4 linked regions of the Homo sapiens genome follow. The protein of the gene in region 3 interacts with the protein of the main gene of each other region in a biochemical or structural test. Each region holds a gene or a part of one and is shown on either strand. Other genes may lie near its edges.

What was found.
Region 1: the proteins of UBE2D2 (region 3) and CNOT4 form a complex in vitro, tested with the Homo sapiens proteins (5 studies listed by BioGRID, with this or other methods).
Region 2: the proteins of UBE2D2 (region 3) and RNF4 form a complex in vitro, tested with the Homo sapiens proteins (8 studies listed by BioGRID, with this or other methods).
Region 4: the proteins of UBE2D2 (region 3) and TRIM21 form a complex in vitro, tested with the Homo sapiens proteins (10 studies listed by BioGRID).

What each region holds. Positions count from the first base shown.
Region 1 is NC_000007.14:135,408,959-135,416,181, forward strand, and holds part of CNOT4 (CCR4-NOT transcription complex subunit 4), read right to left. Parts: intron 6,305-7,223; coding exon 6,218-6,304; intron 5,475-6,217; coding exon 5,373-5,474; intron 4,656-5,372; coding exon 4,530-4,655; intron 1,691-4,529; coding exon 1,557-1,690; intron 1-1,556. UniProt on the Homo sapiens protein: Has E3 ubiquitin ligase activity, promoting ubiquitination and degradation of target proteins. Involved in activation of the JAK/STAT pathway. Catalyzes ubiquitination of methylated RBM15.
Region 2 is NC_000004.12:2,499,883-2,507,105, reverse strand, and holds part of RNF4 (E3 ubiquitin-protein ligase RNF4), read right to left. Parts: intron 6,448-7,223; coding exon 6,368-6,447; intron 1-6,367. UniProt on the Homo sapiens protein: E3 ubiquitin-protein ligase which binds polysumoylated chains covalently attached to proteins and mediates 'Lys-6'-, 'Lys-11'-, 'Lys-48'- and 'Lys-63'-linked polyubiquitination of those substrates and their subsequent targeting to the proteasome for degradation.
Region 3 is NC_000005.10:139,599,261-139,606,483, forward strand, and holds part of UBE2D2 (ubiquitin-conjugating enzyme E2 D2), read left to right. Parts: intron 1-1,111; coding exon 1,112-1,175; intron 1,176-7,223.
Region 4 is NC_000011.10:4,390,703-4,398,839, forward strand, and holds the start of TRIM21 (E3 ubiquitin-protein ligase TRIM21), read right to left. Parts: upstream 3,001-8,137; 5' UTR 2,931-3,000; intron 1-2,930. UniProt on the Homo sapiens protein: E3 ubiquitin-protein ligase whose activity is dependent on E2 enzymes, UBE2D1, UBE2D2, UBE2E1 and UBE2E2.

The sequences.
Region 1 (7,223 bases), on a different chromosome or scaffold from region 3:
CATTTCCTTCAATAAAAACATATAGTTTTATATTCAGAAGACAACAAATGTTATCTCAAAGAGATCATCTAAATTTTAAATTTTTGCTCTGAAATCACCAAGGGCTATAAACCCAGAATTTGACTTAAATTAGAATGACAACATTTTTAATGCAAACAATGATGTGCATAAATGTTAAAAGCATCTAAAATAAACCACTGTTTACTACAATAACTTCATTCTTATACCAAGCACTACAGAGGTGGCAACGAATAAGATAAGTAATAGCATATGGTTTGCCATAAAATAACCATACAGGGCTAGAAAAGGGTGGGTACAAAAGATTAAAGGAAAAGATCAAAGCTTGTCAAACCAGAAAGATCTGTTTTGACTTAGCTTTTATTCTTAGCTTTGATATAAACAAATTTTACATAGTTTACTATACAGTAACTTTATGTTTCGCTTTGTGGCCTATTTTATATTTATTTATATTTACATACACATATATATGTGTCTAATTTAGTTTTTAATAATTTAAATAATCTTTACTCTTAAAATGAATAAACACAGACTTCAAAATTTAAAGAATGTGTTTTTGAAGAAATGGACTCAAACAATAATCCATGTAGTTATTATTAGCTATGTTTGAAAATAGTTCTTACATCATTTTAGCACCAAACAGACACTGGGCTATAATATTTAACACCTAGACATTAGGACAACATTCAAACAAATTTAACTTTGGAATTTTAAAAAAAGATCATCAACATAAATTAATTACAACATTTACTTTTAAAATTCATTTGATAAAAGTTAAACTTATCAAATAAAAAAGAACAAAAAACCTAACACATCAAATTTAAAGAAAGTTCAGGATAGAATAAAATTCCCAAATTATATTTATTAATATGATTTTCTGACAGGCCATAACAAAATATAATCTAAGATAAGAAGATCAACATATCAGAATGAGACTCTCTACTGAAGACCATAAATTTATTTAAGCATTGACACAATATAGTTTACCCAAAACCATAATGAGATGGAAGATAGGAGATGACTGGTCTCCTAAGATAAGTAAGATTCTGAATATGGGATACTCCCTGTTCATTTACAGGATTTAAATGACTTTAGTGATTCCTGGAACTAGATATCCTTGAATATCTGTGTCCCCAACACACAAGGCTTCCTTCAGATAACACCCACTTTCCCTTTTATAGTATTTTCCCCCTAATTATATCAAGGGGGACCTCAATTAGGTAATCAGAGCCTTTTAAAACCTAAAATCCCTTAATTTTCTCTTTAATAAGGAAAGTATTCCCTGGGCTCAGAGTAGTCTGCAAATCACCACAAAAGGTGAACCCATCAAAAAGCTAGTCTGAAGTGTTACCAGGGAAAAGTAGGCAGCAAGCATTCAAACCCAGAAATTGTGACTCAACATTTCCCATACAGCTAAACAATTCTGCATAAATGACAGACCTTGTCAACAAGGATTTTGCCTGAAAAAGATCTAAAATGAAAAGAGAAGATCAACTGATAAGAAGGTAAGATGTCTGACTATCAATATCAATACTTACGTATCGTACCTCTGCAGTGGTGTCACTTTGTTCTTATTTTTATCAACTGAACCCGTAGATAGCTGAAGAAAATTGGGATTTAATTTATATAATTCTTGAAGTAGCTTCTGTTCATATTCTTGGTGTTTACCCGCCTAACGAAAGAAGAAATTAAAACTGCAGTGGGATTCACAAAATGGCTGGTATAAAATACTGAATAATCTTCTGAATTATTAAATATATTTTAAATAAAATAAATAATATTTTTAAAAAATAAAATATTAAATAAATTTTAAATAAATTTTTAAATAAAACAAGTAAGAGAAACCTGTGAGGATATCACAAAACTTCTAGATCAATGAAAGTCATTCCAACAAAATTATATGATATATATCTGATAAATTAAATTAAGGCATTTCATCAACCCATTTATTGTACAGAAAAGCATATTAAGGGAAGAACATTTTTGCTAGCTCAAAAAGTGTAAGGTCCACTTTAAACCTACTTCCAAGTCTTTCATGTAAGAATTAAGTCTTGTAACACTGAGTTTTCTGAAAATCAGCCAAAATTCATCAGTCTCCTTTTTAATTTGGAGATTAGCACTTGAAGTAATACATAGATGAACAGTTTTACTATATTCTTCATTATCTTGACACTAAGTAAAACTTCCATGAATTAGTTTTTGCTTTCTCTTTTCTTCTATGGTTATCAAAAGTAAAATAAAAATTAATGTATTTTAAACTCTAGACCCAGGGTCAGCAATTTACAGCCAGTTGCCTGTTTTTATAAATAAAGTTTTACTGGAACATGGTCATGCCCATTCATTTACATATTGTATTTGGCTGCCATTCTGCTACAAAGGCAGGATGTAGTAGTGCAACAGAGGCAGAGTAAAGTAGTTGTGACAGAAGACTACATACATAGCTCAGAAACCCTAAAATATTTACTAACTGGCCTTTACAGAAAAAGTTTGCCAACCTCTGCTCTATACACAAAAGAATGCTATGCTTACTCTAGCTGGGTAGGTGTACATCAAAAGGCAATGTCACAAATATTATGGGAAAAATTAGGCAAAGATTGCCTGTGGAAGCTAATTAGACACAAAAATAAATGATAATGAACTTACTTTGAGTAACATTTTACTATTTGCATGTATATCTAGACTGGAAGAATAGTTTTACTTACCTTCAGGGATGTTAATTTTTTTAAATTATGGTCTAAATAGATGTTATACAACAAAACCAAAACGGAACAAATCAAAACAATAACAAGTGAGGGCAATTGCACTTAACTGAGCATAATTGTGTCATATATACTGCACAATGCATCGTTCCCTGTTCTGAGAGGCCACTTGCTTGTTTCTATTGGACCTATAAATATTTCCTATGGCACTAAATTTTGAGTTACGCAGTAACAAGGAAAGATTTTCTGATTTTTGCCATAAAATTTATTCAAATTTCTTTCCTACATCAAGAAAGTGTTTTAACAACAACAACAAAAAATCCCCTTTTAAAGTAATTTTAAACTCAGCTAAAGAAGAGCAAGATAAATTCAGGACAACATTATGAAATTAGTTTTAAATTATTTTTAAAAATACATTAGATGTGAAATTTACATTTTTAAAACATGAAAAGTCTTGAAAATTATTTCTGGAATCAATACTTCAGGAGATACGGCTTTCACTAATATCTGTGGAAAGCCACAAAGAGCTCAACTTGATATTAAAATGACTCTACAGGGGCAGTTCATAAAGACAGGTTAAATCCCATTACAAACAAGTTCCAAAGGACAGCCCATACATTTTATTTTATTGTTTAATATTACTTTAAATGAGATCAACTGGGTGGGACTTGTAAATTCTGATAGACAGAAATTGATAGGAAATATGAATAAAGTATACCCTCTACTAATTAAAATTTAGTTTGAAATTTTGAAATGGTTCTACCTTAGATTTCATTCAAGAAGGTTTCATCCAAAAAACAAACAAAAAAAGCATTAAGAAATCAGTTAAGTCATCTGTCCTTATTAAATATCAGATAGACCTTATTTTAACATTGTTTTTGAATCATAAAGACCATACTATCAAGAAAACTCTGATGTATTTATTATAATGGGATTTAATCTGTACTAGCTCCAAGTCAAAAAAGGTAATACTCCATTTAACAATCTTTTCTTAAAGGAGCCCCTACCAGACTTTCTCTAGTTTGACCTGGAGAATGAAAGGTAGCAATGAATGCCCCCCACCTTCTAAATGAGAAGTATTCCTGAAAAGTCCACAGCAACAATCTGAAGTCCTCATCTACAATAGGGAAGTGCAGCATTGTGCTTTGGTATAATCCTCATTTAATATGTCGTATGGTCAACATTTTTACTTGTTAAGGCATGTTTATACTACAAATTGAAAGGAGACAGGAGAAGAGGAAATGTAAAAAAGAACATAGGATATTAAGCCTTCAATTCACCCTTTACAGGATACTGACTCAGTGGACACTTGCATGGGGAGAATAATTTTGTAAAAATAATATTAGTTTATCAGCATCATTTGACAGAGTATTATTTTCTAGCAAGCTCTGTAAAGAGTATAGATTGGTTTAACAAATAATTACAATATCCCACTTAGCTTTCATTTTGTTGACATTCCCCTTAAAATAGCATTTCCCAAAGTGTTTTCCTGGTCAACTAAGTTCTGGTTGTAAATTCCCTTCGTGGATCTGTATTAGCATATTAAGGACTCTGAAAAGTCTTAAAGCAAAGAAACCTGTTCATCTTCATTAATCTAGCATTTCAAACTTAGTTGACCACAGACACATTTTTATTGTAACAATATCCTGCAGAACTGACCTTCCATTAAACACTTCATTTGGCAAATGCTACTTTAAAGTAATATCAGTTTTTACAAAATCAAATCCTTAGTTTTTGCTTTTGCAATGTTAACTAATAAAAAAAAAAGTACTCCCTTTTCTGCAAAGTTGATAATTCACATGACTTTACTACCTGCATTTCCTCTTTTGTGAAGCTGGCCGCCTCATCCCCCAATTCATGAAGATACATGCAGTCAGGTTTTGGACACTGCATATTCTTTAAGAAGTAACTGCAGTATTTTGTTGTACCTAGAGATGCCTGCAGGAGGAAGAGGGGTAAAGGAAAAGAAGACTCAATGTGAACTGACAACACAATGAGAATCTCCATGTTTAGTGTTTTCAAGTCACCTAAAATGAGGCACAAACATGACAAAACAAAAAGTATGGCTGCAAATACTAGAGAACTAAACTCTTATTAGCAGGATTTATTATAGATGAGGCTCATTTGGAAGAACTAAAGGAAACATCTGTCTATGGTTTCCAAAACTTGGACACCCAAATCTTCCCTAGATATAAGGAGAGGAGATAGACAAAAAAATCTGTTCCATGTTATGAGTGGTTAGACACATAAGAAGGCAAATTCCTTTTTCTAATTATGCCATCCTCCTTCCACTAACAGTAAAGCTTTGCTTAGTGGGACTCTTCACTGAAACTGGAATCAATGTCCATATATTTAAGGACTACCTATTTCTGAAGAAAATAATGGTACTATTTTCACAAAATAAGATATATGTAAAAATGCGATATTTTAAAAGATTATCCCCGATAATGAATGTGTTTATTCCTATCTGGTAAAAGAGGACCCTACAGAAACCAGCAGTAAACAAATTAGCTATAATAGATGGTATGGACCCTAAGACAGACTCTTCAAATTAACTGTCAAATTTAATATATAAATGCTCAGTTCTCCTCTACTTACTATATTTTATCTCGTCTTCCTTAAAAAAAAAAAAAAGAATCAAGAGGACTATATTACCTTAAGTGTTCTGCCATCTACTACCACATTGTTGACACACTGTATGGCTCTGAGAGCGTCTTCTGACCGGATATAGGTTACATAAGCACTGGCACTTGGACCCTAAAGTGAAAACATCCCATTCCACTGTTATTAGTTAAAAATTAAACAATACTAAAAAAATTCTACTGCAACCTAGGGAATTCTAAAGACCCTGACTACTACTATTACTAATGACAATAATTAGTAGTAGTAGTGGCAGTTTTGATTAAACACTAAACTAGCTCATTTGAAAGTAATAATACTCAATGAATTTTATCTGATTTTAAGAATACTGTAATATATGTGAATAAAATATTACTTTGGCTTGGGATTTATTTTTTTAGACAGTCATTTGACAGGCTCGTCAAGGTTATAAAAAAATTAAAATTTAGATTAAAAAATAAGACTTAAAGACTATGTCAAATTACATTCTCAAAAATAAATGCAATCTGGAAAACTATTCTATCTGATAACAGCAGCATAACAAAGACACTATTAAGTTTTCAATATCTGAAAATATTACAGATTAGAAATCACTATCGAATCCTCATCTATTTATCACATTGCCTGATAACAGACTCACCTCCCCCTCCCTTTCACTCCATCACTAAATGTTTGTTTTACTATTTCCCTCTTAATTGTTAAGTCCTAGAAGGGTCAAATAAGCAGCAAAAAATCCCCCACCCCACCAACAGAGGTCACTACATTGCTTAAGTCCTTGTCCCTCAAGCTTTCTAATCAGAGAGAGCAAAGTTTCCTTTGGAACAGCCCAGGTCAAGCCCAGACCATAGGGAGGAAAAGCAAAAATCCCTAAAATTAGTTACCTGTGAGCCTGCATATGATGTGCTATTATTGATGACAACTTTATGTATTTTACCAAACTTCCCAAAATATTCTGGTCGTTTTAAAACCTATAAAAGAAGAAGAAATAAGGTATAAACTGTCCCCATTTTAAACAACTTTATCCTTATAATGGAGACATTCATCATCCCTCTTCAGCAAAAGGAAAAAGATAATTTTTAAAGTTTTCTAATAAATGTCACTACCTCCTAATTGCAGTTTGTGTAGCTAACCTATAGGAAATCAAAAGAGTTTAAAAGCTATTTTTTTTCTTGACCCACTGAATAGAAACTGAGACTCACTAAATTTGGTATTATCTACTATGTTCTAATAACTGCTCCAATAGTCTATGGGATCTTACCTGTACAGTATTCTTAAACACAAAACAGATCAAAGATCTTAACTACATTGCCATTAAGAGATGATCCTTACACGAAAGCAATTCTTCAAAAACAATGACCAAAATTATGTATTAAAGGTAAAGACAGAATTGAAAGAACAGACATAAAGACAGTCTTTACTCATAAATCTATTGCATATAACACTGTTTATAAATCACAAATTTCAAGTAACAGAGTGCCCACTCAACCCTCTATGCTTTATGATTTATCATTGTGCATACAGTTTCCTATGTCAATCAGTTTTACCATTTCTCATCTGTCTCATGAGGCTTTTTCCCCTACTTTTCCTGGTACGTAACATTTCGGAAACAAATTTACACGTTTCTTTCTTTATTACCTGGTTACTTCTTGGTGGTACCTACGTACCTCATCTCCTTTACTTTGTGAACACTATATGCATTCTTTCAGCTTCTCTTACAAACTTAACCTTGGCTAATTTGACCGGTATGTAACTTGATAAAAAGACATCTCACATAATTTGCAACTACCTCAAAATTCTGTTTTCCTAGAATGTATCTTTAGACCTACTGTTCCTACAATCTCTCCAAATAGCAAGCTCTCTGCAAATGAAAGCTTTCTGCATGTAACT
Region 2 (7,223 bases), on a different chromosome or scaffold from region 3:
GTGACTTATTCATACATTATAGAAACAGACCAAAAAAAGATTCCAGAAAAATCAACCTTACTAAGAGACAATCTTTGGAAATTTAAGAAAAACAGCCTAAGTAACATTTTCAATAACCTTCCCCTTAAAGAATCTCGATTCCTTAAAGAGAGTTGCCAGTCTCTTTTCTACCACTGCATTGCTTCTAGCCAGAGCAGAGACTGGCATACTGAAAATGCTCATGAAAAGTGACCCAAGGTCAGGCTCAGTGGCTCACAACTACAATCCCAGCACTTTGGGAAACCAAGGTGGGAGGATCACTTGAGCCCAGGAGTTTGAGACCACCCTGGGCAATACGGTAAGACCTTGTCTCTCCAAAAAAATATAAAAAATCAGCCAGGGATGGTGACATACCCCTATAGTCCCAGCTACTTAGGAGGCTGAGGCAGGAAGCTCAATTGAGCCCAGAAGGTACAGGCTGCAGTGAGCCGTGATGGCACCACTGCACTCCAGCCTGGGTAACAAAGTGAGACCCTGTTTCAAGGGAAAAAAAAAGAAGAAGAAGAAGAAAAAAAACAAATTTGGAGAAAGCACACAACTTGGAAAAAAAAAAAAGATTATTTGCTGTTAAAAAGCAACCAAGGAGGCCGGACATGGTGGCTCACGTCTGTAATCCTAGCACTTTGGGAGGCTGAGTCAGGTATATCACTTGAGGCCAGGAGTTCAAGACCAGCCTGGTCAACATGGCAAAACCGTCTCTCCTAAAAATACAAAAATTAGCTGGCCGTGGTGGTGTGTACCTGTAATCCCAGCTACTCAGGAGGCTGAGACATGGGAATCGCTGGCACCCTGGAGATGGAGGTTGCAGTGAGCCAAGACTGTGCCACTGCACTCCAGCGTGGGCGACAGAGCGAGACTCTGTCTCAGGGGGGAAAAAGAAAACAACAAATGGTTTGCTTTGTTCTAGTTCAATTTTTTCAACGATTTAAAAAGTTTATAGGACTCAAGGAACCAAAACTGTATCTGATGGCCTCAAGGGTTATGTTTGAAGGCTTGCTGACTTGCAGAAAACTCAAGCTGACTGTTCAAGATGTTCAGGGCAAAAACTGCCTAGCTTCCATGCGTGGGTCTTACCCATGACAAAATGTGTTGTGTGATTTAAAAATGGCAGACCACCCGGGTGGATCACTTGAGGTCAGGAGTTCGAGACCAGCCTGGACAACATGGCAAAATCCTGTCTCTACAAAAAATACAAAAATTAGCTGGGCGTGGTGGTGCATGCCTATAGTCCCAGCTACCCAGGAGGCAGAGGCTGCAGTGAGCTGAGATCACGCTACTGCATTCTAGCCTGAGTGACAGTGAGAAACCGTCTCAAAAAAAAAAAAAAAAAAAAAAAAAAAAAAGGCAGACCATGATTGAAGCTCATGTTGATGTCTAGACTACCAATGGTTAAAGAAAACCTCAGCACCAACAGGTCTAAGATGATGGAAATCATGACCCAAGGCCGGGCGCGGTGGCTCACACCTATAATCCCAGCACTTTGGGAGGCCGAGGCGGGCGGATCACGAGGTCAGGAGATCGAGACCATCCTGGCTAACATGGTGAAACCCCGTCTCTACTAAAAATACAAAAAATTAGCCGGGTGTGGTGGCGGGCACCTGTAGTCCCAGCTACTCTGGAGGCTGAGGCAGGAGAATGGTGTGAACCCAGGAGGCGGAGCTGGCAGTGAGCCAAGATCGCACCACTGTACTCCAGCTTGGGCAACAGAGCGAGACTCCATCTCAAAAAAAAAAAAAAAGAGAGATGCAGACAAATAACTTGAAAGAAGTGGTGGAGAAAATTATTCCAGACAGCACTGGAGAAGACACAGAAATGCCTGCAAATCTATTTATCCGCTCCACGATGTCTTCTCTGTGAGGAAAGTTAAAATGCTAAAAACACTCAGGTTTGCATTGGGAAAACGTAGGGAGCTTTGTGGTGAAGACAGCAGTTCTGGAAAAGCTACTGGGATGAGCTAGGTACTAAAGTGAAAAGTCCTATTTATGATGAAAAAAGTTTATATACGAAAGTTGCATAAAAAAAAGCTATGTAACAGCCAGGTGCAGCGGCTCATGCTTATAATCCCAGCACTTTGGGAGGCCAAGGCGAGTGGATCACCTGAGGTCAGGAGTTCAAGAACAGCCTGGGCAACATGGTGAAACCCCATCTCTACTAAAAATATAAAAAATTAGCCTGGCATGGTGGTGCGTGCCTGTAGTCCCAGCTACTCAATAGGCTGAGGCAGGAGAATTGCTTGAACCCGGGAGGCGGAGGTGAACTGAGTGAACTGAGATCGTGCCACTGCACTCCAGCCTGGGTGACAGAGTGAGACTCTGTCTCAAAAAAAAAAAAAAAAAAAAATACAAAAAATGAGCCGGGCATGGTGGCGGCTGCCTGTAGTCCCAGCTACTCTGGAGGCTGAGGCAGGAGAATGGCGTGAACCCAGGAGGCAGAGCTTACAGTGAGCCAAGATCACGCCACTGCACTCCAGCCTGGGTAACAGTGCAAGACTCTGTCTCAAAATAAATAAATAAATAAATAAATAAATAAATAAATAAATAAAAGCTATAAAACAAAGAAGTTTTAAACAGGCACTTCACAAAAGAGAAAAATAAACATGAAAAGGTGTTTGATCCCATTTGTAATAAAAAAGCACAAATTAAAACCACAATGAGACACCACTGGACAAGCATCAGAATGGCTAAAATTAAAAGTGGCCATGAGGATGTGGAGAACCTCAAACACTGGCATGAATGTGAACTGCTCCCTCTTTAGAAAAGTCTGGCATTTATCCAGTAAAAATCAAAGACACTCACACCTCGGGACACAGCAGTGATGCCTTTTCTAGGCTATGCAATGCCAAAAATGAAAGTTCATTTTGAGGGAAACTAATCAAATGAGATGAACAAAGTCTCTCACTGCATCTTACCGCATTTTTCATTTCCCTTCATTTTTCAGGGGCTTTGAATTCCTTCGAAAGTTGGAAGAATGTGCACACCTGTATGCAAAGTTTCCAGTCTTTTTTTCTTTTTTGAAGAAGACAGGGTCTCACTATGTTGCCCAGGCTTGCCTTGAACTCCTGAGTTCAAGTGATCCTCCTTGCTCAGCCTTCCCAGTAGCTGGGACCACAGGCACAAAGTTTAGAGGGTTCCCTGATGTTCTGACGGCTACCTCTGGATCCTGGTATCCAGGGATTCCTATATTACAGGTACAGAGCTACTGGAGCTAAAGCAGTGCACTCAAACTATTCGACAGGTCCTGGCGGAACTGGTAAGGAAGGTTACCCCGCTTCCAGAATGAATACATTTATCCATTTTATACTCTCCTGCAGGTGCAGCCTAGGGTCACCCTGAACACACGATCCATCTACAGATGCCCCTTATCCTCAGTGACTAGCATTAGAGGCCTCCCAAACAGATCTGCTCAGAGGCAGAATTCCAAACTCAAGTATATGTCTCAGTGTAAATTCATAAACTGGCACTTGGACTTATTAAAATCAAAAATAAGTAGAGAATGATTAGCAAGAGCTATCAAGTCCAAAGCAGTTATTTTGTGGCTGACAACACTGAGGACAGTGTGAGATAAATCCACTGATCAAACTGACCAGTAGATCTGAGAGACCAGAACCTAGGACTCCTGCTTCCCAAGCCAGGAGCGTCTCCCTTTTACCTATCAGCTCTCCCTCTGGCCACCCATCCACTTTCCAGGGTAGCTCCCTCAACACCAATATTCCTGGTCCCCGGGTCTCCCAATGACTGCAGATCTTATAAAGGTTAACCAGACAGCCCCAGGTTAATTGGGAGTAGGACTGCCAACATGGAGCCCTAGCCCAGGGAAACAGAAGAAAGGTAGGGAAGTTCAGAGAGGAAGCCCTTTTAGCAAGAGCAGCTTAGTCATCAAAACAAAACAAAGCTGGCCAGTGTGGTGGCTCACACCTGTAATCCTAGTGCTTTGGGAGGCTGAGGTGGGTGACTGCTTGAGCCCAGGAGTTCAAGACCAGCCTGGGCATCACAGTGAGACCCTGTCTCTACAAAAATATTAAAAAATCACCACCACCACCCGACCCAAATTTAGTAGTGTATGGTGGCATGCACCTGTAGTCTCAGCTACTCAGGAGGATAATGTGGGAGAATCACTTAAGCTCAGGGGTTGGAGGCTGCAGTAAGGTGTGATCATGCCACTGCTCTCTAGCCTGGGCAACAGAGTGAGACCCTGTTTCTTTTCTTTTCTTTTTTTTTTTTTTTGAGACAGAGTCTTGCTCTGTCGCCCAGGCTTGAGTGCAGTGGCGCGATCTTGGCTCACTGCAACCTCCGCCTCCTGGGTTCAAGTAATTCTCCTGCCTTAGCCTCCCGAGTAGCTGGGATTACAGGTATGCATCATCACACCTGGCTAATTTTTGTATTTTTTTTTTTTTTTGAGATGGAGTCTCACTCTGTTGCCCGGGCTGGAGTGCAGTGACGTGATCTCGGCTCACTGCAACCTCTGATTCCTGGGTTCAAGCGATTCTCCTGCCTTAGCCTCCTGAATAGCTGGGACTACAGGCGTCCGCATAATTTTTGTATTTTTAGTAGAGACAGGGTTTCACCATGTTGGCCAGGCTGATGTCAAACTCCTGACCTTGTGGTCCGCCCACCTCGGCCTCCCAAAGTGCTGAGATTACAGGCGTGAGCCACCGCGCCCAGCCTGAGACCCTGTTTCTAAAGCAAAAGAAAACACAAGTGTGAAAGGGGAAATGATGTTGGTTTGTCAGCCAACAAAAGCCAATCAATCATTGTCTTCCTGCAGTCAAAATCCTAGCTCTCTCCTCAGGGTCTGGCAGAGAGAAGGCCAAGAAGACTGTGGTGAACACTGAGTATTCAAGAAAAACAAAAAACAAAAAACAAAAAAACTTCTGCAGACACCACTTTCCAGCTTTAATGAGCAACTGGTGAAACCAAGGTGTCAGCTGGGAAAAAGAAAGAGGGGAAAAATCAGTGACTGTGCTGTAGCTGCCAGCTAATATACCAAATTAGTTATCTTTCCAGAACTCCATGCAGGACACAGGGATGATAAGCAAAGTCATATGTGTGTATGTACCTCAGAAAACACGTTAATGAGACCTAAGCAGGGACCACGTACAACTAAACCCACTGCTGCTTATCTCAGATGGTTTTCCATCCCTGTCCTTTTCTTTGCATTGAAGTCTTGAAACTTCTCAGTATAACCCTATTCTGAAGTTCTCAGCACAACTAAGAAGCAACACCTATGGGGTGTCCCTATTCAGATACCCAGGCATCAGCCAAACAGGATAACCCCAACACCAGTGAGCCCAGGGCCAAGGCGAAGACTCAGCTACTAGCAGCCCCCACACCCCACAGTCCTCCTCAGCAGCACTTACCACCCCACTGCCAATGCTGCCAAGTGTGCCCCCACCCCGACCTGTGTTCCGAGCACACTGTCAGAAAACACTCAAGTGGCATCTTCCAGAGGCAAACTTGCCCTTAAGATGCTGACCAGATTCCCAGACCTGCATGCACCATGAAACAGGTCTATCAGAAATAGCTTCTCCGTGTGTCCTCTGACCAGACAAGGCCTCCCTCCTGGCAGGCAGGACACGTATACACACGTCCCCTGCAGTCTGTAACCGGTGCCATGAGACAGGGACACAGGCAGCCTCCTGGGCTCCAGCCTCCCTGGCATCAGGACGCAGCAGGCATCAGGTGGCAATGCAGGGAGCCTGCATCCCCTGAGGCCATGCTAAGTAGCAGGCACTTTTGGAACTTGAGAGATTTCCCATGGGCAGTGCTGAGCCAACGTTCCCTTTCCTTTCAGTTGGGAGGGCATACACTCACAGTGACTGGGCACCATTCTAGGTGTCAGGCACTCAAACACGGCATCTGTTGTAAGATGTCTTACACCATGCCCTGCTGACATGAGTGACCTGTCCCCATTTCATGGAAAGTGAATGAGGCTAAGTCACATGCCCAAGGTCACACAGCTGGTGTAAACTGTGGAATCAGGGACTGAAGACAGATGTGGGGGTCTTGAGATTCTCCCCAAACCACTTTTGTGCCCAGGTGTGGCAAGGTCAGGTTACACAGACCTACTCCATAGGCGACAAGGCTATAACAAATGATTTTCCAGAAACATTTTTCATTTTGGGCTCTCGTCACTGAATGCATGAACTTCTTTGTTATTATTATTGTTACTGTTTATTTTCTTTCTAAAAGCTCAATTCCACAAGATGCATGAACTTCTTTAGCATAAGCTGTAACCTTGACTTGGAGTCTGTGACCAAGGCTGTCAGATGCTGGCACTGGCCAGGGACCCATACCCAAGAAACAGCCGACTCTCACACTCCAACACTTACCACAACAGAGTCATTGTGAGTCAGATCAACCACCACAGGCTCTAAAGATTCACAAGTGAGGTCCACAATTTCATCTCCAGCTTCAAAAGAAAGTATTTCAACAAGCATTAAGATTAAGAGGAAAGTAAGGTTGTATCCCTCTACACTTTAGTATGACTGCTAATGTTATAGGCTTACCCCAAACTAAAACAATCCTGAAGTATACACTGCAAAGAGCACCAGGACCAACACCTCCCTCAGGAGGGAAAGCCAGTAACCACCCTTCCAGAATTCTGCTCTGAGTGGGGAGGTATGGTTTTTACAAATGTACCTGGGGGGTTATGTATGTGTGCGCATGTGCATACCTCTATTCCACGGCATCCCACTTCCACACGGCTATGCCTCTGTGCCCCATCTGGGAGAACGCACCATGCATGCCCAGCCCCAGGCCTTTCTCTTTGGGATGGACTAGCCTGAAACCTCTGCTCCTCCCAGCAGGTGAAGCTGACCACTCTCACTTGGCCCAAGGACCAAAAGTCAGGCTTAGCTTAGTAACTTCATCGGTTAATCTAGGGCAAATTCTTTTTTTTTTTTTTTTTTTTTGAGACAGAGTCTCGCTCTGTCGCCAAGGCTGGAGTGCAGTGGTGCGATCTTGGCTCACTGCAACCTCCGCCTCCTGGGTTCAAGCAATTCTCTGTCTCAGCCTCCCGAGTAGTTGGGATTACAGGCGCCTGGCAGCATGCCTGGCTAATTTTGTTTGTATTTTTAGTAGAGATGGGGTTTCACCATCTTGGCCAGGCTGGTCTTGAACTCCTGACCTTGTGATCCACCCACTTCAGTCTTCCAAAGTGTTGGGATTACAGGCGTGAGCCACCGT
Region 3 (7,223 bases):
CTACTTTTAGAACCCTGGTAGTGGACTTCCACTGAAAGCATATCAACTTGTCAGATGGTCCAGTATAATTTTGGAACATTTATGACTTTAGGAGCTTGTCCCAAGTGTAACCTAATAGTTTTGAGGTACAAAAATTGGCCTTAAATTTTTTTTTTGAAAAATAATAAATGAAATGTTTACATTAAAACAATTTTGGCCAGGCGCGGTGGCTCACGCCTGTAATCCCAGCACTTTGGGAGGCCAAGGTGGGCGGATCACCAGGTCAGGAGATTGAGATCATCCTGGCTAACACGGTGAAACCCTGTCTCTACTAAAAATACAAAAAGTTAGCCGGGCGTTTGGGTCGGGCACCTGTAGTCCCAGCTACTCGGGAGGCTGAGGCAGGAGAATGGCGTGAACCCTGGAGGCGGAGCTTGCAGTCAGCTGAGATTGCGCCACTGCACTCCAGCCTGGGCGACAGAGCAAGACTCCGTCTCAAAAAACAAACAACAAACAAACAAAAAAAACAGTATTTTTGGCTCTTTAATACATAATACATGTTTTTTGTTTGTTTGTTTTTTTGAAATGGAGTCTCGCTCTATCACCCAGGCTGGAGTGCAGTGGTGCAATCTTGGCTTACTGCAACCTCCGCCTCCCTGGTTCAAGGGATTCTCCTGCCTCAGCCTCCTGAGTAGCTGGTATGACAGGCATGTATCACCATGCCCAGCTAATTTTTTCTATCTTCAGTAGAGACAGGCTTGTTGGCCAGGCTGGTCTCGAACTCCTGACCTCAAGTGATCTGCCCGCCTCAGCCTCCCAAAGTGCTGGGATTACAGGTGTGAGCCATCACGCCCGGCCCATAATACATGACACATGTTTTACCTTCCTGATTGTATTTATTTGCTAAGCTCTGAACAAAGCAAAAATGACCCACTTTAAAAAAATACACATTGCCTTGAAGAATCCAAAATACCTTAAAGATTCACCAATCTACTCATCTCTTACTCTGAAGGAATGCTCTTAAGAGAGTTTCACCAGCAGGACAGAGAATATTGGTAACAATATAAACTTTAGTAATGGATAAAAGGTACATTTATGTTGAATATATTTCTTTTCTTTCTTTTTTCTGTAGGAATTGAATGATCTGGCACGGGACCCTCCAGCACAGTGTTCAGCAGGTCCTGTTGGAGATGATAGTAAGTATTTAAAAGGAATAATGGAGTAATAGCATAACAGTGGTTATTTTGTGTGAAGAAACAATTATGGTATAGGGAAGAGGCAGTGTTTAACCCTTAGTGGCCCATGAAGGGAGCAACTCTATGTTCATCCCATTATCATCTGTGTTGTTCATTACATTTTGAATCTTCTGCCAGGTATTGGCTATGTAGTTGTTCTAGTCCTCTCCTACCTTACCTTCATCCCTTCTGGGTATTTTCCTGGAGTGAAATATTTAAGCTTTTACCTACAACTAGCTATTATTCTTGAGTAAGATAATACTAAGGATGATAGTATGTGTGTCTGTGTCTGACTTTCTACTGACTCATACTTGCGAAATCAGGTCTTTATTTATTTTTTTCTTGAGACAGGGTCTCGCTCTGTCAAGCCCGGGCTGGAGTGCAGTGGCGTGATCTCAGCTCACTGCAGCCTCTGCTTCCTGGGTTCAAGTGATTCTCGTGCCTCAGCCTCTCGAGTATCTGGGATTACAGGTGCATGCCACCACGCCTGATTAATTTTTGTATTTTTAGTAGATTCGTGGTTTCGCCATGTTGGCCAGGCTGGTCTCAAACTCCTGGCCTCAGGTGATCCGCCCGCTTTGGCCTCCCAAAGTGCTGGGATTATAGGCATGAACCACCACACCTGGCCAAAAGCAGGTCTTTATTTTTAATGTCCAATTTATCTGCTTAATTTTGTCTAAAAAGATGATCTTAATGCATACATTAGATGATAATTTCCTCTTTGTTCCACTTCATTTCAACATAATTTTTTCCCATATAGTGTCTTTTAACTTTTTTTAAAGAGGGGATATTTGAATGAGACTATGCTATGTGATGTAAAACTAATTCACAAAAAACTGTAACATTTGGTTGGGTGTGATGGCTCATGTCCCTAATCCCAGCACTTTAGGAGACCGAGGCAGGTGAATCAATTGAGCCCAGGAGTTCAAGACCAGCTTGGTCAACATGGTGAAGCCCTGTCTCTACAAAAAACACACAAAAAAATTAGCCGGGTATGTTGGTGCATGCTGGTAGTCCGAGCTACTTGGAAGGCTAAGGTGGGAGGTTTGCTTTAGCCTGAGCCTGGGTAGCAGAGTTTACAGTGAGCCAGGACCATGCCACTGCACTCCAGCTTGGGCGACAGAGTGAGACGCTGTCTCAAAAAATAAAAACAGGACGGGGCGTCATGGCTCATGCCTCTAATCCCAGCACTTTGAAAGGCCGAGGCGGGCGGATCACGAGGTCAGAGTTTGAGACCATCCTGGCCAAGATGGTGAAACCCCGCCTCTACTAAAAATAGAAAAAAATTTAGCCAGGCATGGTGACAGGCGCCTGTAATCCCACCTACTTGGGAGGTTGAGGCAGACAACTGCTTGAATCCAGGAGGCAGAGGTTGCAGTGAGCTGAGATTGTGCCACTGCACTCCAGCCTGCGTGACAGAGTGAGACTTACTCTCAAAAAAAAAAAAAAGAAAAAAAAATTTGTAACATTTAACAAATATTTTAAAGTATGCATACTTACAAACACTTGTGTAAATATGTAGATTCAGACCAAAATGAGTACATGGTTAAATTAGCTTATGTTTAATATTTTTTTGTTTGTTTGTTTTGTTTTTTAAGATGGAGTCTCACTCTGTTGCCCGTGCTGGAGTGCAGTGGCGTGACCTCGGCTCACTGCAAGCTCCGCCTCCTGGGTTCATGCCATTCTCCTGCCTCAGCCTTCCAAGTAGCTTGGATTACAGGCACCTGCCACCACACCTGGCTAGTTTTTGTATTTTTAGTAGAGACGGGGTTTCGCCATGTTGGCGAGGCTGGTCTTGAATTCCTGACCTTAGGTGATCCACCTGCCTTGGCCTCCCAAAGTTCTGGAATTACAGGCGTGAGCTACTGCGCCTGGCCTCAAATTGTTTTTTCCTGATTTTTCTTAATAATGTTGTGTCTGGGCCCAGCCCAGTGGCTCACACCTGTAATCTCAGTGCTTTGGGAGGCTGAGGCAGGCAGATCACTTGAGCCCAGGAGTGCGAGACCAGCCTGGGCAACATGGTGAAACCCTCTCTCTACAAAAAAATACAAAAATTAGCCTGGCCTGGTGGTGCATGCCTGTAGCCCCAGCTACTCAGGAGTTTAAGGTGGGAGGATCGCTTGAGTCCAGGCAGTTGAGGCTGTAGTGAGCCAAGGTTGCACAACTGCACTCCAGCCTGGGCAACGGGAGCGAGACTCTCTCAAAACAAAAACAACAACAACAACAACAAAAAACGGAAAAAAAGAATGTGTCTGGTCTGCTAAATCCTGAAGAATCAAAGCAAGGCCCTTTCACAAGGATTACTTTACAAATAGATAAATATTATAAATTATGAGTCTAAGTACATGTCATGAAAAAACTCATTTACATTATTATATTCTGACTTACCTAGCGTGAGTAACTATAGTATTTGGTACCAAACAAGGCAGGCTAAGTACTTAAACTATACAAAATAATTTAGTAAGTGCTGTTACACACGTTGTCTCATTTAAGCCTTACAACAACTCATTTAGGTGAGTGGAGTAGAAATTTTAAATTGTTTTAGAAAAAAGTCCCATGAGAATCTCATGGAGATTCTCCATGTGAACTCACTCTCAGGTTTTCTGATTCTAGTTTGTCCTTCCACTGTATCATATGGGCCACATACATCAGTGTACTCTTTCTATTCAGTTGGAAAAGTGCTTTTAGGTAAATTCCTCCAAGTTAAGAATGGCTGAAAATCTTTAATTAAAAGTGGTTGGAGTCAGGGGATTTGATTTCAATTTTGAAGTTTTCTTTAGCATGCTAAAGTAATTTGTCTTTGCTTTGCTTCTGCCATAGTTAGCACTATACATTTCTTTCTCAGGTTGAAAAATTGTTCCCTTTGGAGAGTTAAATAAAACTCTCCCACAGCCGAGTGCGATGGTTCACGTCTGTAATCCTAGCACTTTGGGAGGCCAGGAGTTCAAGACCAGCCTGGCCAACATGGTGAAACCCTGTCTCTACTAAAAATACAAAAATTAGCTGGGCGCGGTGGCGCCTGCCTATAATCCCAGCTACCTAGGAGGCTGAGGCAGGAGAATCGTTGGAACTGGGAGGCGGAGGTTGTGGTGAGCCGAGATCCCGCCACTACACTCCAGCCTGGGTGACAGAGTGAGACTCTGTCTCCGAAAAAAAAAAAAAAAAAAAAAAAGGCTGGGTGTGGTGTCTCACGTCTGTACGCCTGTAATGCCAGCACTTTGGGAGGCCGAGGCAGGTGGATTACCTGAGGCCAGGAATTCAATCAAGACCAGTCTGGCCTTGAACTCTGGTGAAACCCCGTCTACTAAAAATAAAAATACAAGAAATTAGCCAGGTGTGGTGGTGGGAGCTGTAATCCCATCTATTTGGGAGGCTGAGGCAGGAGAATCGCTTGAACCCGGGAGGCAGAGGCTGCAGTGAGCCGAGATCACGCCATTGCACTCCAGCCTGGGCAACAAGACTGAAACTCCGTCTCAAAAAAACAAACAAACTCTCCCAAAGCTAATCAGTAAGAGAAAAAAATAGATATTATTAGACTTCATCAAAATTAAATATATACAGGCTGCAAATGATGCCATCACGAAAGTGATAAAACATATAGAATGGAAGAAATTGTTGCAAGTCATATATCTCATAAGGGACATATATCCAGTATATTTTTAAAACTTTTTTTTTTTTTTTTTGAGACGGAATCTCGCTTTTGTCACCCAGGCTGGAGTGCAGTGGTGCGGTCTTGGCTCACTATAACCTTCGCCTCGTGGGTTCAAGCAGTTCTCCTGCCTCAGCCTCCCGAGTAGCTGATTATAGGCACGTGCCCCGCCGCCCAGCTAATTTTCGTATTTTTGGTAGAGATGGGTTTCACCATGTTGGCCAGGCTGGTCTTGAACTCCTGACCTCAAGTGATCCGCCCACCTCTACCTCCCAAAGCGCTGGAATTACAGGCATGAGCCACCCCACCCAGCTGTTTAAAAACTCCTATAACTCAGTATAAAAATAAATAACCAATTAAAAAATAGTCAAAGGATCCGAGTAGACATTTCTCCAGATAAGATGGCTAGTAAGCACACGAAAAGATGCTCAACATCATTTGTCATTAGGGAAATACAAATCAAAACTACAGTGAAGAAGAGCCAGGCACAGTGGCTCATGCCTGTAATCCCAGCTACTGGGGAGACTGAGACTGGAGGATCACTTGAGGCCAGGAGTTTTATGCCAGCCTGGGCAACAAAGCAAGACCCCATCTTTAAAACTAAAAATTAGCTGGGAGTGGTGGCTCATGGCTGTAGTCCCACCTACTCACAAGGCTGAGGCAGGAGGAACACCTGAGCCCAGAAGTTTGAGGCTGCAGTGAGCTATGATTTGGCCACTATACTCTAGCTTGGATGACAGGTTGAGACCCAGTCTCTAAAAAAAAAAAAAAAACAAGTATTGATCAGATCTTTCTGATGAACCCCACATAAGAGTACATCAAGTATGATTGGATAGCTAAATGTCCTTTTGTCATTTTATTTTTGTTATAAGGAGTCAGAATTTAATCTTAGAAGAAGGAAGAGAGAAACTGTTGGCCTTTTGAAACTTTTGAGCTCCTTTTGACTATCCTGGTACCCAAATCCCTCAGTACCACATGTTATTGATATTTAGTGTAAAAATAAAGTGGAGACTTGTGCTTTATTTTAAAACATCCAGATTTTAATGTTGATATTTAGTATAAAAATAAAGTAGAGATCTGTGCTTTATTTTAAAACATCCAGATTTTAATGTACTAGTAAATTTTTTTTCACTTTCCTGCAAAGATCTGGTAAGCAGGAAGAAATGTACATCCTGAAAGAAGTAAGCAGCCGGGCCCGGTGGCTCACGCCTGTAATCCCAACACTTTGGGAGGCCGAGGCGGGCGGATCACGAGGTCAGGAGATTGAGACCATCCTGGCTAACATGGTGAAACCCCGTCTCTACTAAAAATACAAAAAATTAGCCGGGCTTGGTGGCAGGTGCCTGTAGTCCCAGCTATTCAGGAGGCTGAGGCAGGAGAATGGCGTGAACCCGGGAGGTGGAGCTTGCAGTGAGCCAAGATCACGCCACTGCACTCCAGCCTGTGTGACAGAGCAAGACTCTGTCTCAAAAAAAAAAAAAAAAAAAAAAAGAAAAGAAAGAAACAAATAAGCTGAAGATTTAATGGCCATATATCTGTTTCCTTCTCTCTTCCCTCCCTTCCTTTCCCCCTCCTCCTCCCCTCCCTCTCTCCCTCCCTTCTCCCTCGTCTTCCTCTCCTCTGGTCTTCTTTAAAGGCAGGGGCTCACTCTGTTGCCCAGGCTAGAGTGCAGTGGCGCGATTGCAGCTCACTGAAGCCTCAAACTCCTGGGCTCAAGGGATCCTCCCACCTCAGCCTCCTGAGTAGCTGGGACTATGGGTACATGCCCCTACACCCCTGGCTAATTTAAAAAAAAAAATTGTAGCAATAGGGTCTCACCATGTTTCCTACGCTGGTCTTGAAATCCTGGGCTCAAGTGATCCTCCTGCCTCTGCCTCCCAAAGCCCTGTGATTGCAGCTGCGAGCTACCGCACCCAGCTTTCTTTTCTTTTGAACAGTTGGTAAATGTGACTCTCTTGAGATCTGTGCATTCAAGTGTAGGTCTCTGGGGATTCAGTCTCATACTATCAAATATTCTCACTGTCCCCTGCTGTTTTGTTTGTTTGTTTGTTTTTTTGAGATGGAGTCTCACTCTGTTGCCCGGGCTGGAGTGCAGTGGCGCAATCTCGGCTCACTGAAACCTCTGCGTCCCAGGTTCAAGCAATTCTCCTGTCTCCGCCTCCCAAGTAGCTGGGATTACAGGCATGCACCACCACGACCGACTAATTTTTTGTATTTTTAGTAGAGACTGGGTTTCACCATGTTGGCCAGGCTGGTCTCGAACTCCTGACCTCAGGTGATCCACCCACCTCGGCCTCCCAAACTGCTGGGATTACAGGCTTGAGCCACTGCGCCCGGCCTGTCCCTTTTAACCTCAAGGC
Region 4 (8,137 bases), on a different chromosome or scaffold from region 3:
AACAGCATGGTACTGGCATAAAAACAGACACATAGACCAGTAGAATAAAGAACCCAGAAACAAATCTGTACATCCACAGTGAGCACATTTTCAACAAAGCTACCAAGAACATACAGTGAGGAAAGGACAGTCTCTTCAATAAATGCTGCTGGGAAAACTGGATATCCACATGCAGAAGAATGAAACTACACTCCTATGTCTCACCGTATACAGAAATCAAATCAAAATGGATTAAAGACTTAAATCTAAGGCCTCAAACTATGAAACTATTATAAGAAAACATTGGGAAAACTCTCTAGGACATTGGACTGGGCAAAGATTTCTTTCAAATATCCCACAAGCACAGGCAGCCAAAGCAAACTTGGACAAATGGGATCACATCATGTTGAAAAGGTGCTGCACAGCAAAAGAAACAATCCACAAAGTGAAGAGACAGCCCACAGAATTGGAGTAAATATTTGTAAACTATCCATCTGACAAGGGATGAATAACCAGAATATATAAGGAGCTCAAACAACTCTATAGGAAAAAAAATAATAATCTGACTCAAAAATGGACAAAAGATCTGAACAGACATTTCTCAAAAGAAGTCATACAAATGACAAACAGGCATATGAACAGTTGCTCAACATCATTGATTATCAGAAAAATGCAAATCAAAACTACAATGAGATATAATCTCATCTCAGTTAAAATGTCTTTTCTCCAAAAGACAGGCTATAACAAATGCTGGTGAGGGTGTGGAGAAAAGGGTACACTCATATGCTGTTGGTGGGAAGGTAAATTAGTACAATCACTACAGAGAACAGTTTGGAGGTTCTTCAAAATACTGAAGATAGAGCTACCATATGATCCATCAATCCCACTGCTAGCATATACCCCAAAGAAAGGAAATCAGTATATCAAAGAGATATCCACACTTCCATGTTTACTGCAGCACGTTTCACAATAGCCAAGATTTGGAAGCAATCTAAGAGTCCATCAACAGATATATGGATAAAGAAAATGTGGTATGTATACACAATGGAGTACTGTTCAGTCATAAAATATAATGAGATCCTGTCATTCACAACAACATGAATGGAACTGGAGGTCATTATGTTAGGTGAAATAAGCCAGGCACAGAAACACAAACATTGTATGGTCTCACTCATTTGTAGAAGCTAAAAATTAAAACAATTGAACTCATGGAGTTAGATAATAGAAAGATGGTTACCAGAGGCTGGGAAGAGTAATAGGGAGGGTCTGTGTGTGGGGGAGAAGATGGGATGGTTAATGGGTACAAAAGTGGAGTGAATTAGATCTAGTATTTGATAGTACAACAGGGTGACTATAGTCAATAATTTAATTGTACATTAAAAATAAGAGTATAATTGCATAGTTTGTATTACAGATGATCAATGCTTGAGGTGATAGATGCCCCACTTACCCTGATGTGATTATTACACATTGTATACCTGTATCACAATATTCCATATACCCATAAATATACCTACTATGTGCCCACAAAAATTAAAAATATACTAAAAAAAGAAAAACAAAATGATGCAAAGGAAAATAAAAAATAAGAATAAAAATAATGGGTCAGGCACGGTGGCTCACACCTGTAATCCCAGCACTTTGGGAGGCCGAGGTGGGTGGATCACCTTAGGTCAGGAGTTCAAGACCAGCCTGACCAATATGGTAAAACCCTGTCTCTACTAAAAATACAAAAATTAGCTGGGAGTGGTGGTGGGCACCTGTAATCCCAGCTACTTGGGAGGCTGAGGCAGGAGAATTGCTTGAACCTGGGAGGCAGAGGTTGCAGTGAGCCAAGATTGTGCCATTGCACTCCAGCCTGGGTGACACGGCGAGACTCCCTCTCAAAAACAAAACAAAACAAAACAAGGCATAAAATTAATGGCAAAACAATTAATGTCAAAAACAGTAATTACTTTTGCACCGATCAAACAGTTTGTTGAATAAGTTTATTCCTGTTCTGAATAACAAGAACTCCTCCATTGTTTGGTCCATTGATCCAGTGAGACAGAAGGAGAAACTGAGTCCCTAAAAGAGGGAATGAAAATTGGCAAGAACCTCATAAAGCTGTTGACAGTTCTACTCTCATCATGTCCATTCCTGCTTAAACCCTCAGTGCTCATCCATCTCCTGTCGGGTACCAACAGGCCTCCATGTTGCTGAGAAATTATAGCTACTTTTTACCATGTACCTTCCATGTGCCAGAGATACTTCATGCTTTGAATATATCTTCATTAATCCCTCCTATAACGGCGGAAGTCAGTTGCATATATGTATGTAGGTGTATATGTATGTATACACACAGAGTAACAGGAACCGTGGCCAGCACTCCCTGGGCTCTTTTCTCAGCTGCTCCAAACTTAGTTTAGTTCCTGACAACACTTATTCTAGGACAAAGAATAATTCTGAAGGCCTATACATTTCTGGTTGAACATCCTAAACAGCCTGCCCCTCTCACCTCTGGAGGACTTTTGGACCTGGGAGTCTCCAGAATTGCAGACCTCCCCGACACTGGGCTCCCTACCCTCCTGGCTAGGCTGTAGTCCTGGCTATCCCAGCCACACCCAGCCGTCATCCTAGGTCAGGTGCCAGCATGGGGGCAGCCGGGCCCCTTCCCCTTCTGGGTAACTCCACAGTCACGTCCACAACCCAGCCTCCTCCCAGGTAGGGGGCAGCCGGGCCCCTTCCCCTTCTGGGTAACTCGGCAGTCAGGTCCACACCCCAGCCTCCTCCCAAGCAGGGGGCCAGCACCGGAAGCGCAGCTGGTCTTGGGTTGAGGGATCCCTGGTGGGAGAAGGGGCAAATGGGACCGGCTCAAGGATGGAGACTGGAAGGGGCTCTGCAACCCTGGGGCAGGGGAGAGAGGTCCCCTAGGAGGGCAGGGGTCCCTTGATCTAGTGGGGTTCACTCACCTTTACAGGGGACTCAACGCTGGTAGCCAGCTCCCTATTTCACTTTCAGTTTCCGCTCAGAAGCAAGTCTGAGAGGAAAGGGGAGGGAGGAGGAGGAGCCGTGGGAGGAGTGAGGGAGGAGCAGTGGGAGGAGCAGAGCCTTGAAAGGGTGTGTGGAGAAATGCGGCTGAGAAGAGAAGTCAGAGTTGAGCTGGGGGAGGCTTCAGAGGCTCTGCATGCCCAGGAGGCTTCTCTGAGACTGGGAAGGAGTGGAAACTCAGTAGCCCGTGGTCCTGGTTGCGCGCTCCCTCCCATGTCTTCATTATCTGATTTGGTAAAATATCTACAAGACGGGGGAGTCCGGGCTGCTTTCTTTGACACTGGTCATCACTCCACACCTAGACGCTATGTCCATGTCTGGAAGATGCTTTTAAGGAAGTTTTGATGCAGAGAAGAGTGGCCGGTGCTCTTCCTCGCGTGCCACCATCTGCTTACTTCCAGAAGCTAATTATTTTCATGTGACTGATGTGACTAATATTTTTTAACGCCTGCAGGTGAGTGATTTATTTCGCATGACCCCAAGGTGAGTGTCCCACCAGTGAGTGGTGAGAAGGAAATTGACATTTGACAACCAACTGTGTTCTTGTCACTGAGCTAGGGACATTCTCAGGTTATATTATTTTTATTTTTAATCGTAAAAATATAGAACATAAAATTTACCAAAGTAATTTTTTTAATTTTCAATCTTGTGTGTCTATAGTAGGTGTATATATTTGTGGGGTACATGAAATATTTTGATACAGGTAGAGCATACAATCCGTAATAATCATATCAGGGTAAGTGGGGTATCTATCCATCACCTCAAGCACTTATCATTTGTGTTATATACAATCCAGTTATATGCTTTTAGTTATTTTAAAATGATAAATTATCATTGACTGTATTCACCTTGTTATGCTATAAAATACTAGATCTTATTCATTCTCTCTCATGTATTTTTGAACCCATTAATCATTCCCCACTACCCTTCCCAGCCTTTGGTAACCATCATCCTCTCTATCTTCATGAGTTGGATTGTTTTAATTTTTAACTCCCACAAATAAGTGAGAACATAACAATTTGTTTGTTTGCCTGTGTTTGGTTTATTTTACTTAACATAATAATCCCCAATTCCATCCATCTTGTAGCAAATGAAAGGTTCTCCTTCTTTTTATGGCTGAATAGTGCTCCATTGTGTATGTGTACCACACTTTCCTTATCCATTTATCTGTTGATGGACACTTACGTTGCTTCCAAATCTTGGCTATTGTGAATAGTGCTGCGATAAACATGGGAGTGCAGATATCTCTTTGATATACTGATTTCCTTTCTCTTGGATATATACCTAACAGTATTTCTTCTGGGTATATACCTAGCAGTATCCAGTAGGATTGCTAGATTACATGGTAGCTCTATTTTCAGGTTTTTTTTTTTTTTTGAGGAACCTTCAAATTGTTTGCCATAGTGTTTGTACTAATTTCCATTCCCATTGACAGTGTATGAGGGTTCCCTTTTCTACATATCCTTGCCAGCATTTGTTATTGCCTTTCTTTTGGTTAAAAGACATTTTAACTGAGGTGAGATAATATCTCGTAGTTTTGATTTGCATTTCTCTGATGATCAGTGGTGTTGAACACATTTTCATATATCCATTTGCCACTTGTATGTCTTCTTCTGAGGAATGTCTATTCAGATCGTTTGTCCATTTTTGAATCAGATTATTATATTTTTTTCCTATAGAGTTGTTTGAGTTCTTTGTATATTCTGGTTATTAATCCCTTGTCAGATGGATAGTTTGCAAATATTTACTCCAATTCTGTGGGTTATCTCTCTACTTCATTGTTTCCTTTGCTGTGCAGAAGCTTTTTAACTTGATGTGATCTCATTTGTCCAGTTTTGCTTTGGTTGCCTGTGCTTATGGAATATTTGAAAGAAATTTTTGCCCAGTCCAATGTCCTGGAGAGTTTCCCCAATATTTTCTTGTAGTAGTTTCATAGTTTGAGGCCTTAGATTTTTTTTTAAATTATACTTTAAGTTCTAGGGTACATGTGCACAACATGCAGGTTTGTTACATATGTATACACGTGCCATGTTGGTGTGCTGCACCCATTAACTCATTTACATTGGATATATCTCCTGATGCTATCCCTCCCCCCTCCCCCCACCCCAGGACAGGCCTCAGTGTGTGATGTTCCCCTTCCTGTGTCCATGTGTTCTCATTGTTCAATTCCCACCTATGAGTGAGAACATGCGGTGTTTGGTTTTCTTGTCCTTGCAATAGTTTTCTGAGAATGATGGTTTCCACTTTCATCCATGTCCCTACAAAGGACATGAGCTCATCCTTTTTTATGGCTGCATAGCATTCCATGGTGTATATGTGCCACATTTTCTTCATCCAGTCTATCATTGTTGGACATTTGGGTTGGTTCCAAGTCTTTGCTATTGTGAATAGTGCCACAATAAACATATGTGTGCATGTGTCTTTATATCAGTATGATTTATAATCTTTTGGATATATACCCAGTAATGGGATGGCTGGGTCAAATGGTATTTCTAGTTCTAGATCCTTGAGGAATCACCATACTGTCTTCCACAATGGATGAACTCGTTGACAGTCCCACCAACAGTGTAAAAGTGCTCCTGTTTCTCCATATCCTGTCTATCACCCATTGTTTCCTGACTTTTTAATGATCGCCATTCTAACTGCTGTGAGATAGTATCTCATTGTGGTTTTGATTTGCATTTCTCTGATGGCCAGTGATGATGAGCATTTTTCCATGTGTCTGTTGGCTGCATAAATATCTTCTTTTGAGAAGTGTCTGTTCATATCCTTTGCCCACTTTTTGATGGGGTTGTTTTTTTCTTGTAAATTTGTTTGAGATCTTTGTAGATTCTGGATATTAGCCCTTTGTCAGATGAGTAAATTGCAAAATTTTTCTCCTATTCTATAGGTTGCCCATTCACTCTGATGGTAGTTTCTTTTGCTGTGCAGAAGCTCTTTAATTAGATCCCATTTGTCAATTTTGTCTTTTGTTGCCATTGCTTTTGGTGTTTAAGACATGTAGTCCTTGCCCATGCCTATGTCCTGAATGGTATTGCCTAGGTTTTCTTCTAGGGTTTTTGTGGTTTTAGGTCAGAATAACCAATGCAGAGAAGTCCTTAAAGGACCTGATGGAATGGTGCTATCCAGCCCAGATACTATGCTTTTCCCATGGTCTATGCAACCCACGGACCAGGAGATTCCCTTGGATGCCTACACCACCAGGACCCTGGGTTTGAAGCACAAAACTGGGTGGCTGTTTGGGCAGACACTGAGCTAGCGGCAGGATTTTTCATGCCCCAGTGGCGTCTGGAACACCAGCAAGACAGAACTGTTCACTCCCTTGGAAAGGGGGCTGAAGCCAGGGAGCCAAGTGGTCTAGCTCAGTGGATCCCACCCCCATGGAGCCCAGCAAGCTAAGATCCACGGGTTTGAAATTCTTGCTGCCAGTGCAGCAATCTGAAATTGACCTGAGATGCTTGAGCTTGGTGGAGTGAGGGGCATCCACCATTACTGAGGCTTGAGTAGGCGGTTTTCCCCTCACAGTGTAAACAAAACTGCTGGGAAGTTCGAATTGGGTGGAGCCCACCAAAGCTTCGCAAACCTGCTGTAGCCAGACTGCCTCTCTAGATTCCTCCTCTCTGGGCATGACATCTTGAAAGAAAGGCAGCAGCCCCAGTCAGGGGCTTATAGCTAAAACTCCCATCTCCCTGGGACAGAGCATCTGGGGGAAGGGGTGGCGGTGAGCACAGCTTCAACAGCCTTAAACATTCTTGCTTGCCAGCTCTGAAGAGAGCAGTGGATCTCCCAGGACAGTGCTTGAGCTCTGATAAGGCACAGACTGCCTCCTCAAGTGGGTCCCTGACCCCTGTGCCTCCAGACTGGGAGACACTTCCCAGGAGGGGTCAACAGACACCTCATACAGGAGAGCTCTGGTTGGCATCTGGCGGGTGCCCCTCTGGGACAAAGCTTCCAGAGGAAGGAACAGGCAGCAATCTTTGCTGTTCTGCAGCCTCTGCTGGTGATACCCAGGCAAACAGGGTCTGGAGTGGACCTCCAGCAGACCTGTAGCAGAGGGACCTGTTAGAAGGAAAACTAACAAACAGAAAGCAATAGCGTCAACCTCAACAAAAAGAATGTCCACACAAAAACCCCATCCAGAGGTCACCAATATCAAAGACCAAAGGTAGATAAATCCATGAAGATGAGGAAAAACCAGTGCAAAAAGGCTGAAAATTCCAAAAAACAGCACACCTCTTCTCCTGCAAAGAATCACAACTCCTTGCCAGCAAGGGAACAAAACTGGATGGAAAATGAGTTTGATGAATTGACAGAAGTAGGCTTCAGAAGGTGGGTAATAAGAAACTCCTCTGTGCTAAAGGAGCATGTTCTAACCCAATGCAAGGAAGCTAAGAAACTTGAAAAAAGGTTAGAGGAATTGCTAACTAGAATCATCAGTTTAGAGAAGAAGATAAATGACCTGATGGAGTTGAAAAACATAGCATGAGAACTTCATGAAGCATACACAAGAATCAATAGCCGAATTGATCAAGAGGAAGAAAGGATATCAGAGATTGAAGATCAACTTAATGAAATAAAGCATCAAGACAAGATTAGAGAAAAAAGAATGAAAAGGAACAAGCAAAACCTCCAAGAAATATGGACTATGTGAAAAGACCAAACCTCCATTTGATTGGTGTACCTGAAAGTGACAGGGAGAATGGAACCAAGTTGGAAAACAGTCTTCATGATACTGTCCAGGAGAACTTCCCCAACCTAGCAAGACAGGCCAACATTCAAATTTGGGAAATACAGAGAACACCACAAAGATACTCATCAAGAAGAGCAATCTTAAGACACAATAGTCAGATTCACCAAGGTTGAAATGAAGGAAAAAATGTTAAGGGCAGCCAGAGAGAAGTGTCTGTCCACACAGGGAAGCCCAACAGACTAACAGCGGATCTCTCTGCAGAAACCCTACAAGCCAGAAGAGAGTGGGTGCCAATATCAACATTCTTAAAGAAAAGAATTTTCAGCCCAGAATTTCATATCCAGCCAAACTAAGCTTCAGAAGCAAAGAAGAAATACAAACCTTTATAGACAAGCAAATGCTGAGAGATTTTTGTCACCACCAGGCCTGCCTTACAAG